Homo sapiens: one gene and its partner. The protein of the gene in region 2 interacts with the protein of the main gene of each other region in a pairwise test. Each region holds a gene or a part of one and is shown on either strand. Other genes may lie near its edges.

Region 1 (9,326 bases), on a different chromosome or scaffold from region 2:
GCCACGGCAGACTGCTGGAAGTACTCCACCAGTTTGCGGCAGCGCGACAGCAGCGCCCCCAGCTTCGGGAGCTGGAAGGCCTGCTGGATGCCGGCATTGAAGGTGTGGCCCAGGCAGGGCATGTGCACTGCGACGTCCAGCAGGGAGCACGCCTTCACGATGTCCTTGCCATAGTTGGTGGTGGCCCCGAAGACCTTGGCGCTGATGCCCCACTCGATGAAGACCTCATAGAGCACTCGCGTGATGGTCTCCGCCGTGTTCTCTTCGGGCACCTCGAAGGTCTTCAGGCAGCGGGAGCCCATGGACAGGCAGTTGGGGGCGCCCAGGCCCAGGAAGTGGGCGGCCAGCGTGACGTAGGCGCGGTTCTGATTCTCACTCCTCCACATGTCGGTGGAGATGCCACACCAGGTGGCCTCGGCCAGCTCCTTCAGGATCACCTCCCGGACGGCCCCGTACTTCTCAGGGATGGCCTTGGTAGAGATGTACTTCCGGCTGGGCAGCTCATACCGGGGGTCGGCCGTCTTCAGCAGCACCTTGAAGGTGGGCTCGTCCACGATGGAGGCTGGGTACAGCCCCTCGCAGATGAGGCCCAGCACGGCGGCCGTCAGCTCCTGCTGCTTCTTGCTGTCGTAGCCGTGGCCGGCCTTGACGGCCAGCGCGTCCTGCCCGGGCTGCTGGGACGACTCGGGCTTCAGCTTGGAGAAGGCGGTGGCGAAGGCTTCACGCATCTGCTCCGTGTTGCTCTTGACGAACTCGCAGAATTCCTCGGGGTGGTTCTTCTCCAGGTGGTAGGACAGGTTGGAGGTGTTTCCGGAGTAGGCGATCTGGGCCATGCAGATGCGGCAGTAGATTTTCTTCCACTGCAGGATGCATCCCTCGGCGTTGGTGTCGAAGCCGAAATACTTCCACACCTTGCTCTTGGCGCGGGGGTGGGCCACCAGCTTCAGGTCTGTCTGGGAGCTCTCCAGGCTTTTATTCTCCATTGCTTCTCCACCGGAGCCTGCCTGCTGGACGGCTGCTCATGCGTGGGGACCTGCTGAGAAGGGCCAAGACAAACACAGCATGAGAAGGGACCCAGGCACGCACGGGAGCCCTGCCGGGGAGACAGACAGGGTGCCGGGGCAGCTCCGCTTTCAACCAAAGGGCACTGGGGCCGGACGGCTGGACCTTCCTTGCGGGTCACTTTTGCAGAGTGGAGGAGGGAACCTAGCGCAGGAATACGCTCTTTCTTCCACGTTAATCCGACTGCAGCGATGCCGCACGTGTCAACATACAGGTTTGCGAGTGAGCACGGCATTTTTGCAGGGCTGTACCTGACAAGTGCCTTTAGTTTTTTTTTTTTTTTTTTTTTGAGACAGAGTTTCGCTCTGTCACCCAGGCTGCAGTGCAATGGCGTGATCTCAGCTCACTGCAACCTCCGCCTCCCGGGTTCAAGCGATCTTCCTGCCTCAGCTTCCTCAGTAGCTGGGATCACAGGCACCTGCCATCACGCCTGGCTAATTTTTGTATTTTTAGTAGAGACAGGGTTTCACCATGTTGGTCAGGCTGGTCTCGAACTCCTGACTTCAGGTGATCCACCCGCCTTGGCCTCCCAAAGTGCTGGGATGACAGGCGTGAGTCACCGCGCCCAGCCTGACAATGCCTCTGTCATCGCAGGGGCTTGTTGTTCCTGTCCTAAGAGTTTCCCAAGCACCTGCCACGTGGGAAAGCTGCGTAGATCTTTTCTGGGGATGAAGCCTACATAGAAGAATCCACAAGTGGCCAGGCAGACCCCCCACTGCCAACCATCACAGCAGGACTCTCTGAATGCCACCTGAGCTTCATTCACTGCATTAAAGAAGCCAAACAGGACCTCCATCTGACTAAAGCCAGCTTTCCTATGGCTAAGAGGCACTGCACACTCTTCTCAAACTTTATGGTTTAAAATGAAGCCATGTGGAACGTCACAGGTGCATCCGTGATCTGTAAGCACGTCTGAAGAAGCATGGATTTCTCAATCCCTGGAACTTCTCAAAATGCCCATTGTGTCCAGTCACACCTGTGGGCAGAAAGGCCCAACTGGGCAAATATCACACACCTGTGCAAACATCAGGCAGTCGGTGTGGAGGCTTAGATGACCCAGAAGCCAGTCCCCAGGGTTCCTGTTGAGGTTGAATGCTCACACATACAGGCCCTTCCAGCTGCCACTCAGGAGGCCACCTCTGTGACTGGGTTGCCCAAAATGACAGCTGGGCTTTGTTAAAAGGTGTAATTGTGTCTCCAAGTGTCCAGTACAGTGCTCAGGAGGGTAAATATCAAAATGCACCACCCAGGCACGTTCAGAGTGTTGGGATACAGTCAGTGCAAGGAGGCATATTTCAATGATGACTATAGTGGGTTGAAAAGCGTCCTCCCCTACCAAAGAAAATCTGTATCCACCTGGTACTTGTGTATGGGACCTTGTTTGGAAAAAGGGTCTTTGCAGATGTATTAATAATGAAGGTAAGGATCTTTAGATGAGATTATTCTCAATTGAGGTGGTCCTAAATGCAGTGACCAGTGTCCTTAATAGAAGACAGATGAGGAGACACGGACACACAGGAGAAGACCACATGGAGACAGAGGCCGAGACTGGAGTGATGCGGCCACAAACCCAGAACGCCTGGAGCCCCCAGGAGCTGGGAGAGGCAGGAAGGATCCTCCTCTAGAGCCTCCACAATGAACTGGATAAAATCATGGTGGATTGAACAGTGGCCCGCAGAAAGATCTGTCCACAGCCTAAAGCCCAGGATGTGGAATGAGATCTTACTTGGTTATTAGAAATTTTGTAGATCTCATGAGTTAAGGATCTGGAGATGAGATCATCCGGGATTTGAGTGAGCCCTAAATGCAGTGACAGATGTCCTTATAAAAGACAGAAGAGGAGACACAGACACAGAGAAGGCCACATGGAGACAGAGGCAGAGACTAGAGTGATGATGTGGCTGGCCTGAAGCCCAGGGACGCCAGGAGCCCCCAGGAGCTGGGAGAGGCAGGAAGCACCCTCCGCGTAAGCCTCCGGAGGGAGCGCAGCCCTGAGACACTTTGATTACAGACTTCTGGCCTCCAGAACTGGGAGAGAATAAGCTATGGTTTTAAGCCCTCCGGTTTCTGGTACTTTATTAAAGCAAGGTATTCTGAAGGTTAATTTTGCCCGAAATAATGAGTGGAGGTCTTAGAAAGGCCCCCCGTCTTCACGGGCAGTCGCGGCCTGCGTTGCTGGCTTTCCGTCAACGGTGCCCGCCCAGTGCTTTTTAGGGAGACGCCGCCACGTGCCAGGTGAGCTGGGCATTGCCAGAGCCCAGCAGTGCCACTTCCCAAGACTGGGGTGCAAGGAGGGGGGTCCTGTGGCCAATGCCAGCACCCTGGTTTGTTCTAAGGTGCTGAGAGAATGAATAACATGACCGGGACTTCCACAAAACGAGGAACCCCCAAACTGCATCTTCTGCAGCCGAGTTAGGGTGGGGCCCCTGGATTACACAGTCAACGGAGGGGGAAAAGAATCTCAAGAGGCCTCCTAAGTCCGACCTGAGTGACAGGACACAGCTGTATCAGATCCTCCATCATCATCATCATCATATTATTATTTGGCTGAAACAGGTTTTGGTAATTGGGAGGAAAAGGTTTACATTCCATTATTATTATTTGTGCTATTGGGCTGAAAGAGGTCCCAGTCCTCAAACAAAAGTTTAAATTCTATTTATTATTATTATTATCATTATTATTATTATTATGTGGCTGAAAGCGGTTCTGGAACCTGAAGGAAAGGTTTCAATTCCATTATTATTATTATTTTTATTATTATGAAGATTAGGCTGGAAGAGGTCCCAGTACCAGTAACAAAGGTTTATATTCTAATTATTATTGTTACGGTTGTTATTATTATTAGGCTGAAAAAGGTCTCAGTACCTGTAGCAAAGATTTTTATGCTGGCACCAGGCACAGCGGCTCACGCCTGTACTCTCAGCACTTTGGGAGGCCAAGGTGGGTGGATCATCTGAGGTCAGGAGTTTGAGACCACCCTGGACAACATGGTGAAACCCCTCCTCTACTAAAAATACAAAATTAGCCGGGCGTGGTAGTGGCACATGCCTGTAGTCCCAGCTACTCGGGAGGCTGAGGCACGAGAATCGTTTGAACCCGGGAAGCAGAGGTTGCAGTGAGCCGAGATGGCGCCATTGCACTGTAGCCTGGGCAACAAGCGCAAAACTCCGTCTCAAAGAAAGAAGAAAACAAAAAAAAAGATATATATGCTATTATTACTATTGTTTTTAGGCTGGAAGAGGTCCCGATACCTGGAAGAAAAGTTTGTACTCGGTTATTATTATCTGTCTGAAAGAGGTCCTGAAAGCTGGAGCAAACATCCATATTCTATTATTATTATTATTATTGTGATTGTTTGACTGAAAGAAGTCCCAGTGCCTGGGGCCAAGGTTTATATTCTATTATCATTGCTGTTATTATTATTTGGCTGAAACAGGTCCTGGTACCTGTAGCAAAGGCTTATATTATTACATTATTATTATTATTAGGCTGGAAGAGGTCTCGACACCTGGAACAAAAATTTTCATTCTATCATTATTATTATTATTAGGCTGAAAGAGGTTCTAGAACCTGGAGCAAAGGTTTTTATTCTATTATTATTACTTTTGTTATTAGGCTGAAAGAGGTCCCAGTAACAGAACAAAAGTTTATATTCTATTTTATTACTATTTGGCTGAGAAAGGTGCCAGGACCTGTAGTAAAGGTTTATATTCTATGATTATTATTAGGCTGAAAGAAGTCCGGGTACCTGGAACAAAAGTTTATATTTTATTATTATTATTTAGCTGAAAAAGGTTCTGGCACTTCAGTCAAAGGTTTATGTTCTATTATTATCATTATTATTATTATTTGGCTCACAGGTGTCCCAGTACCTGGACCAAAGGTCTGTTTTCTATTAATACTATTCTTATTATTACTATTTGGCTGAAAAAAGGTTCTGGTACCTAGAGCCAAGTTTTATATTCCACTATTATTATTTGGTTGAAAGAGGTCCCAGTACCTAGAAGAAAAGTTTATATTCTATTATCATTATAATTATTATTACTGTCATTATTGTTGGTCTGAAAGAGGTCCTGGTACTGTGAACAAAGGTTTATATTCTATTATTATTCTTATTTGGCTGAAAGAGCTCCCAGGACCTGGAGCAAAGGTTTATATTCTATCATTATTATCATTATTACTACTGTTATTATTATTACTGGGCTGAAAGAGGTCACAGTACCCTGAACAAAGGTTTATATTCTATTGTCATTATTATTATTATTGTTATTATTTGGCTGAAAGACGTTCCAGGAGATGAAGCAAAGGTTTATATTCTATCATTATTATCATTATTACTATTATTATTATTATTACTGGGCTGAAAGAAGTCACAGTACCCTGAACAAAGGTTTATATTCTATTATCATTAATATTATTATTATTATTTGGCTGAAAGACGTTCCAGGACGTGAAGCAAAGGTTTATATTTTATCATTATTATCATTATTCCTATTGTTGTTATTATTATTGGGCTGAAAGACGCCCCAGTACCATGAACAAAGGTTTATATTCTATTATTATTAATATTATTGTTATTATTTAGGTGAACAAAGGTTTCTATTCTATTATGATGATCATCATTTGGCTGAAACAGGTCTAGTACCTGGAGTGAAGTTTTGTACTAAGAGCCAAAATTCCCAAACCCCTAACCAAGTGACTCCTGGAAGGAGAAACAAGAAGCTCCCTCCCACGTCTCCTGCTGTCAGAATTCCATGGGATTCCCAGGTAAAGAACCGTCCACACAGTAGGTGGGTTCCACCTGAACCCACGTAACAGCCACAGCAGAGCTGACCTTCTGCAGTGAGTACCCTCCTTCCTCCTTCCTCCTCCCTTGCAGCGCTTCCGAGCACACAAGGCCACGAATAAAGGTTGCTGTAAACCAGCCTCTCACTGCCTCATTCTTCAAGACTGGTGCAGCATCCCCAGTGCGGGGGGAGGGGGGTTTGGGGGGGACACTCCCCAAAACGCTCTCAGGGGGCCGGCGATTTCACGTTTCCAATTGCACATCCATGAGAGGCCAGTGGATGTGCCTCACATGACTCTTACCAGAACGACACGTCGCAAGAGACCAGTGTGAAGAAGCAGAGGAAGGAGCCAGCCGCCATCCGTCCCTTTATGGATGAGACTGACAAAACCCTAAAACTCAGCCACTCTTCTCCCTAGGTTTTTGTTATTTTGGAAATGACAATCATTTTTCTTTTAAAAAACATACAGCACATGGCCAAAGGGTACCAAGTTTCTGTTCGACAGGAGGAATCCGTTTCAGTGACCTACTGCACAGCGTGGTGGCGATAGTTAATAGTGTATTACATATTTCAAAATAGCTAAAAGAGGTTTTTATTTTTGTTTTTGTTTTTTTGTTTTTTTGGTTTTTTTGAGACGGAGTCTCGCCCTGTTGCCCAGGCTTGAGTGCAGTGGCGCAATCTTGGCTGACTGCAACCTCCACCTCCCAGGTTCACACCATTCTCCTGCCTCAGCCTCCCAAGTAGCTGGGACTACAGGCGCACACTGCCACACCCAGCTAATTTTTTGTATTTTAGTAGAGATGGGGTTCCACTGTATTGCCCAGACTGGTCTCAAACTCCTGAGCTCAGGCAATCCACCCGCCTCAGCCTCCCAAAGTGCTGGGATTATAGGCATGAGCCACCGCACCCGGCCCGCCAATAGAGATTTTAAATGTCTTGCGTGCAGTGTATACTGCTTGGGTGATGGGTGCACCAGAATCTCACAAATCACCACTAAAAAACTTACTCATGGAATCAAACACCACCTGTTCCCCAATAACCTATGGAAATAAAAAACAAAAATAGCTAAAAGAGATTTTAAATGTTCCCACCGCAAAGGAAAAATAGCGGGTGATAGATATTAGTTTAATTATTCCACAATGCAAACATACAGCAAAGCATCACACTGTGCCCCATAAGTGTACACATTTATATATTTATATAAAAATATCAATTGTTTTTATTTACATCTAAATTATATAAATATAACTTATTTGTATTTTATATTTATAGAAAAGTATAAATTATTCTAAAAATATATATATTTAATAAAAATAAAATATAAAAACAATAAATATATTACATACATTTTTGTATGTAACATGTAATTGGCCTGTTACCATTACTTTTAAATAGATTGTTAAATATGTTTTAAATTTCTGTTTTAATGTCTAACAGGATGACTTATTGACTGTTATAATCCACAAAAACAAAAACTGTCTGGGGTCCTCATTTTTTTTGAAAGAGATTCTATGATCAAGGAATTGGAGGCCGGGGGCAGGGGCTCACCCCTGTAATCCCAGCAATTTGGGATGCCAAGGTGGACTATCACCTGAGGTCAGGAGTTTGAGACCAGCCTGACCAACATGGAGAAACCCCATCTCACTAAAAATACAAAATGAGCCAGGCATGGTGGCACATGCCTGTAATCCCAGCTACTCGGGAGGCTGAGGCAGGAGAATCGCTTGAACCCGGGAGGCAGAGGTTGTGGTGAGCTGAGATCACGCCATTGCACTCCAGCCTGGGAAACAAAAGCGAAACTTGGTCTCAAGAAAAAGAAGAAGAAGTTGGAAAACTGCTGTTTTTACTTCTACCTGATTTCTAATAGCCACTGTTCACTACTCATAAAACCAACAAGAATTAACTTTCCCTTTACAGGTTAAAAAAAAAATAGTTTGAAAAGTAGGACTTCTATAAATAGCTTTGTAAGTGGGCCAGTTGGCATATTTTTTGTAAATACTCACTCCTGTGGTACAGCATTTACGAATCCATTTTGCATCCCAGAAAGTGAAGGAATATTCTGTGGCCTATTATTTACAATAGAACTTTTAAGAAAAATTCTGTGGCAGTATTGGAACTGGACTTGACTACAGGTACCATCAATTTTCTCTCCTTTGCAAAACTCATTGATGTATCAGAGAAAATGTAATTTCTAAACAGATCACCCTGTTATTAATACCGGTGGGTAGAGACTTTCTTTACTCAATATGATCATTTTCAACAGATTTCAGGCCATATCAATGTTCAAGTTTTGATGCCATATTAGGATATTAAATGCACTGATTAAATCATCTATTTTAAAATCCAACCAACAGATACAACTTACTGAATGGGCCGCATGGATATAGTCTTAAGAACACAGAGACAGACCCTCTTATGGGAATTCTCAATTTGCTTCTAAACCCCCTCTGTAAAGGCATGACCAACATCTATGATTAATTTGTAATTATCTTGTTTTTCCATGATGAACTGTAAGAAGACACCATTTAGGAGTGGATTCCAGCCACAATTTCTTCCTTCTCATACCATGTAAGTCAACTCATGTGGAAGGTGTAACCCAGGCATTTCCTTTGTACGATACCTAAGAAGAACACGCTCCATTTGGAAGTTCTAAGAAAAAACTGCCCTTGCTTCCAATCTGCAGTGGGGAAATTGGCCCTCTTGGTTATTCAAACAGCTTAGCTCAAATGCCCTGGACAAAGTTCAATGTTTCCTCACCAACAGCGAAGGCCTACCAGAGAGAAGCAAATAAAAAATGCCGTTTAGGAAGCTGGCCACCAGCAGACCAAGGACAACAGCATTCCTCCACTGGTATCGAAAATTATTTTTAATCCATACATAGGAAGGGGCTCGATGAGGGCAAGCCACTTAAGTTAATCTTTAGAGAAGGCCATTCTGTTTCGATACACACCCGGGTACAGATTCCCTTGGCAGACACGTGACTTCACCAGAAGCTCGTCCTCTTTAACAACCTTCTGTTGTTGTTTAATCAGTAAATGGGAAAAAAAAAAAAAAAAAAGATTCCAGCCCTTTTTCTAATGCACAAAGAGCAAGTTTTTCAAAGGCCAGCATTTTGGTGAGCTGCTGCAGGAACCCCGGCCTCTTCTGCCAGGGCCCACACAGGCCCTTAAGGAGGTTTAAGGGGACCTTTCTGTAAGCAAAACTGCCCGGATAAACATAATCTTCTGCGAGACTCCACACAATTGTTCAGCAGCTGTAAACCGTTCACCTTGCAACTGATTACTTACTTCAAACAAACATGCTCTCCTGCCCTCCGAAAGCCTGACTACAGTTCCCTTTACTCTCCTTCTTCTATGCATTTGTAATTATGCTAAGTGGGTTTAAAAAAAAATACTGAAGGCCAGTTTGGCAGAAAAAGAAAAGCTTAGCTCACAGAAAACTCAAAGCTCTTTTTCTCTGGCTAGAGGCGGGAGAGAG
Region 2 (7,356 bases):
CGGCATGTAAAGCTGGCACTCTCATGTTCCAATGATAGTCTATCTCAGTCACTTCCAATCTCTTCTTCCATTAACAATGTAAGTTAAGAGGAAAACACCAATTCCAAAGGGGAAAAAAAGAGAGTAACACTTGAAACACTCTCAACAGAATGTACCTCAGATGATAACAGATGCTATCCTTTATTAATGGGCAAAAGTCATTAGTACAAGCCATTAGTACTCACATAACATGTGAGTAACAAATCAGATATTCATTAATGTCTTGACAACAATTATCTGTGATGCACACAACAGTAACACACTGCAAGACAAAATCCTGAAAATTGGGTTTTTTTGGATGCTACTGCAGATAGCAAGAGACCCTCCTGCCAAAAGAAATGTTATCAGGAAAAACAATTCAAGCCCAACATAGTGATCCAAGAATGTCTAGATTACTGAGTTATTTCATTAACTCAATAAGCCATTTTCTGGATCTGCCAGGCCAAGACCTATGCTAGGCAACAGGAAATTAAAAACAAATAGGAGAGGGTCCTGAGCCTGTGGAATTCACATTCCAGTTTGATCCCAGATAAAAACAAATAATGAAATGATGTGATGGTAACCACGAATTTAAACGAGATCGTATCTATAATACTTCTCCCAGCAGAGCTAGGATCACTCTTTGTAATCAAGGTTTAAACTTGAAGTTAAAAGACAAAAAGAGTTTACTTGCTTTTAAAAACTACTTATTGGACCAATTCAAATAAAACCTAAGATAAACTATTAAACATTCCTTTTTTCACATCTAGAGCCTTAAAAACAAATTCCTCTCAGATCTAAAGAATTAGTTGTTGTGCCTGAAGTAAAAGGGAAAAAATAAAAATGTGTTATCTTCTACTTTCTCATTCATTTGACCCGTTATTTCTTTTCTATATATAAATTTGTAAGTGCCCATATATTAATCTCCAGAACATTGGCAGCATTCAAGAAAAGCAATGGCGTGGGAGGGAGACCTTTCATTATTATGCCCCTTTGTACCTGCACAACTTTGAAATATGTGAATATGTAACCTACTTTTTAAAATATGGTTTTTAGAAAACTCATTTCATGTTAATTCTGGTTGTTCCAATAACCAGTAAGGTTTTCTCATTTCATATTAACACAGGTATAAAACTCAAGTCTCTCCCAAGTTTAAAGTTTAAGAATACATGACTGGGTACAGTGGCTTACGCCTATAATCACAACCCTTTGGGAGGCCGAAGGTGGCAGATCACTTGAGTCCAGGAGTTCGAGACCCGCCTAGGCAACATTGTAAAACCTCATCTCTACAAAAACACATAAAAATTAGTTGGGCGTGGTGGCACACACCTGTAGTCCCAGCTACTTGGGAAGCTGAGGCAGGAGGATCACCTGAGCCTGGAAGGTAGAGACTGCAGTGAGCCATGATCGCACCACTGCACTCAGGCCTGGGCAACAGAGTGAGATCCTGTCTCAAAAAATAGGCCAGGCATGGTGGCTCACACCTGTAATCCCAACACTTCGGGAGGCCAAGGTGGGCAGACCACAAGGTCAGGAGTTCAAGACCAGACTGGCCATTATGGTGAAACCCCATCTCTACTAAAAATACAAAAATTAGCCAGGTGTGGTGGCAGGCACCTGTAGCCCCAGCTACTCAGGAGGCAGAGGCAGGAGAATCGCCTGAACCCAGGAGGCAGAGGTTGCAGTGAGCCGAGATTGCACCACTGCAGTCCAGCCTGGGTGACAGAGCAAGACTGTCTCAAAAAAATAATAATAAAAATAAAATAAAACACACACACAGTTTAAGAGTATAAATGAAAACACAAATTCTCCCACCCCCAAATTTGTCACTGACATTTCACAAAAATTTCAGGAAAAATTTCACAAATAACATTTCACTTGGGACTACATTCTACTTCACTGAATTTTTAAGATTAATTTTGAAGTAACAAAAGCATTCTGATTTTAGCAGTGTCTCATGGATTCTAGTGAGTCTTTTAAAAACAGCAATCTGAATATAACCTAATCTGACAACTCAGAGCCATTACTCAGATCATGAGTTTTCTAGTATATACTATGATATATTTTTATATCCTTTCTCTTGCTGTTGTCATCCTTCTGTCAGTCTCCTTCCTCCTCAGCTCTTTAAGTGAGGTGATGAATAACCTAAATACCTTGACGTGATCATTACACATTCTATGCCTGTAAAATATCACATGTACTCCATAAAAACATACAAATGTTATATATCAATAAAAAATTAAAAATTAGAAAAAACCTCCCAGTCTACTCAGTGGTTAATTATGTTCTTGACTCTGAGGTTCAAATTCTGCATTCGGTTTTGCATTAAATTCTGCACTATCTTCTTGACTCTTAGGTTCAAATTCTGTCCCCACTACTATGTTTTCCCGATTATTTGTTCCCTCCCTGCTTCTGTCACTCTTCCCTGTGGGTAAAGTATACTTCCCACCCCACTGACTTAAGGCTTGGCTACAGGACTTGCTCTGGCCATGGAATGTAAGTGGACATGCCATACCATGGTTGCCTGTGTGGTTTGGCTCTGTCCACCTTGAGCTTCTGCCCTCCCTCTGCTTTGAGAACAGCATGCCCTATATAGGGCTGCTCCTTCTGCTCAGCCCCAGAACAAGATATGTGGTGTCAAGAACATAAGACAGGCTGATACCAGAAGAACTGCACATGACTGGTCTGTTGTAGTAACCACTGAAATTTGGGGGTTGTATGTTGCTCCAGCAAAAGCTGACGACTACAGTCTATAACCACAGCCACATTACTTAATTTCTCTCAGTTTTACTGCTATGTCTATAAAATGCTGAAAATCACATACCTCGTACATTTGAAATAACGAGTATTTATGTATATAAAGTGCTTCACACAGTACCTGACACAGCAGACACAAGGTCACTGTTATTTTAATTCCTCTTACCTAAGGGTCTAATAAATACAAGAGTAAAAGAAGACTCAAATTCCAGATGACTGAATTAAAATGCAGAAGCTTTCAAAAGACCAACTGTCAAGAGTTTTTGGTACATTTCTTATGGAGTAGTTGAAGGTAACAGAAACACAACCCCCCAGTAATGACGAAGAAGGTGATGAGAATATGACTGTATTTTCAGACTGATATGGTTTGGCTGTGTCCCCACCCAAATCTCATCTTGAATTATAGTTCCCATAATCCCCACATATTGTGGGAGGGACCTGGTGGGAGGTAATTTAATCACAGGGGTGGTTACCTCCATGCTGTTCTGGTGATAGTGAGCTCTCATGACATCTGACAGTTTTGAGGGGCTTTTCCCCCTTTTGCTTGACCCTTCTCCTTGCTGCTGCCATGTGAAGAAGAATGTGTTTGCTTCCCCTTCTGCCATGATTGTAGCTTCCCGAGGCCTGCCCAGCCATGAGGAACTGTGAGTCAAACCACTTTCCTTTATAAATTACCCAGTCTTGGGTATGTCTTTTATTAGCAGCATGAGAACAGACTAATACAGTAAAATGGTACACAGAGCGTGGGGTGCTGTTACAAGGATACCCAAAAATGCAGAAGCAACTTTGGAACTGGGTAACAGGAAGAGGGTGGAACAGTCTGGAGGGCTCAGAAGAAGACAGGAAAATGTGGGAAAGTTTGGAACTTCCTAGAGATTTCTTGTACGGCTTTGACCAAAATGCTGATAGTAATATGGACAATGAAGTCCAGGCTAAGGTGGTCTCAGATGGAGATGAGGAACTTGAGAACTGGAGTAAAGGTGACTCTCGCTATGCAAAGAGACTGGCAGTATTTTGGCCCTGCCCTAGAAATCTGTGGAACTTTGAACTTGAGAGAAATGATTTAGGGTATCCGGTGGAAGAAATTTCTAAGCAGGAAAGCATTCAAGAGGAAGCAGAGCTTGAAAAATTTGCAGCCTGACAAAGCAATAGAAAAGAAAATCCCATTTTCTGGGGAGAAATTCAAGCCTGCCGCAGAAATTCACATAAGTAACAAGGAGCCAAATGTTAATCACCAAGACAATGGGGAAAATGTCTCCAGGGCATGTCACAGACCTTCAGGACAGCCCCTCCCATCATAGGCCCAGAGGCCTAGGAGGGGAAAATGGTTTCCTAGGCCATGCCCTGGGGCTCCTGTACTATGCAGCCTCAGGACATGGTACCCTGCGTTCCAGCTGCTTCAGCTCCAGTCTTGGCTAAAAGGTACAGCTCTGGCCATTACTTCAGAGAGTGCAAGCCCCAAGCCCTGGTGGCTTACAAGTGGTGCTGGGCCTGTGGGTGCACAGAAGTCAAGAACTGAGGTTTGGGAACCTCCCCCTAGATTTCAGAAGATGTACAGAAATGCCTGGATGCCCAGACAGAAGTTTGCTGCAGGGGCGTGGCCCTCCTGGAGAACCTCTGCTAGGGCAGTGCGGAAGGGAAATGTGGGGTCGTTTGGAGCCCCCACACCGAGTCCCCACTGCAGCACTGCCTAATGGAACTACGAGAAGAGGGCCACTATCCTCCAGACTCCAGAATGGTAGATCCACCAACAGATTGCACCATGCACCTGGAAAAGCAACAGACTCTCAATGCCTGCCCATGGAAGCAGCCAGGAGGGGGGCTGTACCCTGCAAAGCCACAGGGGCGGAGCTGCCCAAGGCCACGGGAGCCCACCTCTTGCATCAGTGTGCCCTGAATGTGAGACATGGAGTCAAAGGAGATCCTTTTGCAACTTTAAGATTTAATTACTGCCTCGTTGGATTTCGGATTTGCACGGGGTCTATACTCCCCTTGTTTTGACCAAGTTCTCCCATTTGGAATGGGTGTTATCTACCCAATGACCCCAGGAAGTAACTAACTTGCTTCTGATTTTACAGGCTCATAGGTGGAAGGGACTTGCCTTGCCTCAGATGAGACTTTGGACTTGAACTTTTGAGTTAATGCTGGAATGAGTTAAGACTCTGAGGGACTGTTGGAAAGGCATGACTGTGTTTCAAAATGTGAAAACATGAGATCTGGGAGGGGCCAGAGGTGGAATGATATGGTTTGGCTGTGTCCACACCCAAATCTCATCTTGAATTGCAGTTCCCATAATCCCTATGTGCCCTGAGAGGGACCTGGTGGGAGGTAACTTAATCATGGCAGGGGGGTTACCCTCATGCTGTTATCATGATAGTGAGTGAGTCCTCACGATAGCTGACGGTTTCATAAGGGACTTTTCCCATTTTGCTCTGTACTTCTCCTTGCTGCTGCCATGTGAAGAGGATGGGTTTGCTTCTCCTTCTGCCATGATTGTAAGTTTCCTGAGGCCTCCCCAGCCATGCTGAATTGTGAGTCAATTAAACCTCTTTCCTTTATGAATTACCCAGCCTCGGTATGTCTTTATTAGCAGCATGACAACGGACTAATAGACTAACATACAAATTAACACCTAATACACAGAACTATGACCCACTAACAAGTTGAAAATCTAATTACTTAAAGGTCCAGGTATCTATATTCAACCCTGGAAGGAATGTATACATGTGAACAAAGACCCTTGAATTACAGCAAAAACCATGTTGAACTGTGACTTTAATTATTAAAAGTTAAAGAAGCTGAAACACATTAAATCTAAAAATTCCATCTGCAAAGAAACCATTTTAATAATTATTTATTGCTTTCCACCTTTGTTAGTCTTTAAACAGTACTGTGGCAACTACAAGCTTTGAAACTAGCATCACACATTCAACACTCCCTATAAAAAGATACACACTTAATGTCTCACCAACTTAATCCTCTCATTTGATGGTTTCTATTGATGTCCAAAGAAGAGGGATCACCTTACAGTGACCCATTTCAAAACCGGATCTCCAGGAATGCACTTGACTTCAAAACAAGCTACATCTATGACCTGGCTCTACAATACTTCCATGATTTGGAAATTGCATAAATAAGAGAAAGCCAGAATATCTACTATAATTCCAAGACAGCAAAGCAACATTCACAGTGACTAGTTGTTTTTGTTTTTTTTTTAATTATTCTGATCATGGTACTAAATACAAATTTTAACAATCAGTTTTTAAAGAAAATAGAAAATACCTGATCAATGAGCTACCCAAATACTTTTTAAAGCTTAGTACAGATTCTTTTACTAATAAACTATACTGATTATAAGAAACTATAAAAACCAATGGAAAATAAAGCAAATTATTTCTATTATACAATTAGATAATCATATACCAAAAGAAATGATTCATTTCTTTTGGTATATGAATCATTTCTTTTGGTATATGATTCATTTCAATTAATTCATAATCATTATGAACCACCTCATAACTTCCACATGCACAAGAAAATCAGTAAGTTTCTCTCACTGATTTACAGAAGCGAATCACATAAACTATTCAAAATATTTGGTAACCCAGACTTTTTCATTCATCGTTTCTTGAGGGAGATGAATTGAAGCATTCATTTGCTTCAATTATCCCTGATGTAAAATTATCACTTTGCTTAGAAAAACATATGCCATATACGTAGGTCACAATGACATACAAGCAAGGAGGAAGAGCAAAAAAGAATAAAAATTGGATTAATTTTTTTCAAGGCGCAACAAGTCCTGACCAATAAAATGGAGTAAAATTTTTGAGGAACATCAATATCAATATCTCTACAGTAATTTATCAGATATACTCTATACTAAAATAGACCGAATCTAATTGAAAATTTCTGATATATCAGTCACAAGCTAGATTCATGTTTCATTACACTAGTTTTAAAAGTGGGATAAGATTTACTACGCTTACTTGCTTTGTTCAAAACGGGAGGAGCATTAACTGCCTTTAAGAACTATAGAATTTCTTATTCATAGAACTGCTATACTAGTTCTGATCAGTTTTATCTGTTATAGTTCTACGCACTAATTTAAAAAGTTACAAAGAATTGTTTGGAAACCCTTTATTAGCCAAGTACAGTTAGCATACAGGTTCATTTTTCTGATAAATTCTACTAATTAAGAATTTTTAAATTACTACAAATGCCTTAACTGTATTTCTTATTTGAAATTGTTTTAGACTTTTTATTTAGTCAGATTCCTTTTCTTCCAAAAAATACAAATTAGTAACATTCCAGTTATTAAATGTAACAACTGTCACAATCACCTCATCATCTCCCCACATTTATTTTTACCTTCTCCAACCTCTCAAAGTATTCCCTGAGGAATGCCATGGGTCTCTCAGGTCGAGCAGTGCACAACTGCACAATAGAATCTTTGAGCAGCGCTTGAATGTTATGCTTCTGGACGTAGAGCTCACATTCTCGAAGGCTGCGTGCCTCCTCACTGGCGGCGGTACTGCCAGACTCCATGGTTCTCTGCGAGAAAAAAACACACACATGCTTGTA

Evidence for each region. Proteins that work in one complex are often made in the same cells at the same time.
Region 1: the proteins of PRKAR1A (region 2) and ZBED1 interact in binary tests that used the Homo sapiens proteins (3 or more experiments, as listed by UniProt).

The regions. Positions count from the first base shown.
Region 1 is NC_000023.11:2,489,737-2,499,062, forward strand, and holds part of ZBED1 (E3 SUMO-protein ligase ZBED1), read right to left. Parts: intron 1,037-9,326; 5' UTR 984-1,036; coding exon 1-983.
Region 2 is NC_000017.11:68,515,364-68,522,719, reverse strand, and holds part of PRKAR1A (cAMP-dependent protein kinase type I-alpha regulatory subunit), read right to left. Parts: intron 7,327-7,356; 5' UTR 7,321-7,326; coding exon 7,144-7,320; intron 1-7,143. UniProt on the Homo sapiens protein: Regulatory subunit of the cAMP-dependent protein kinases involved in cAMP signaling in cells.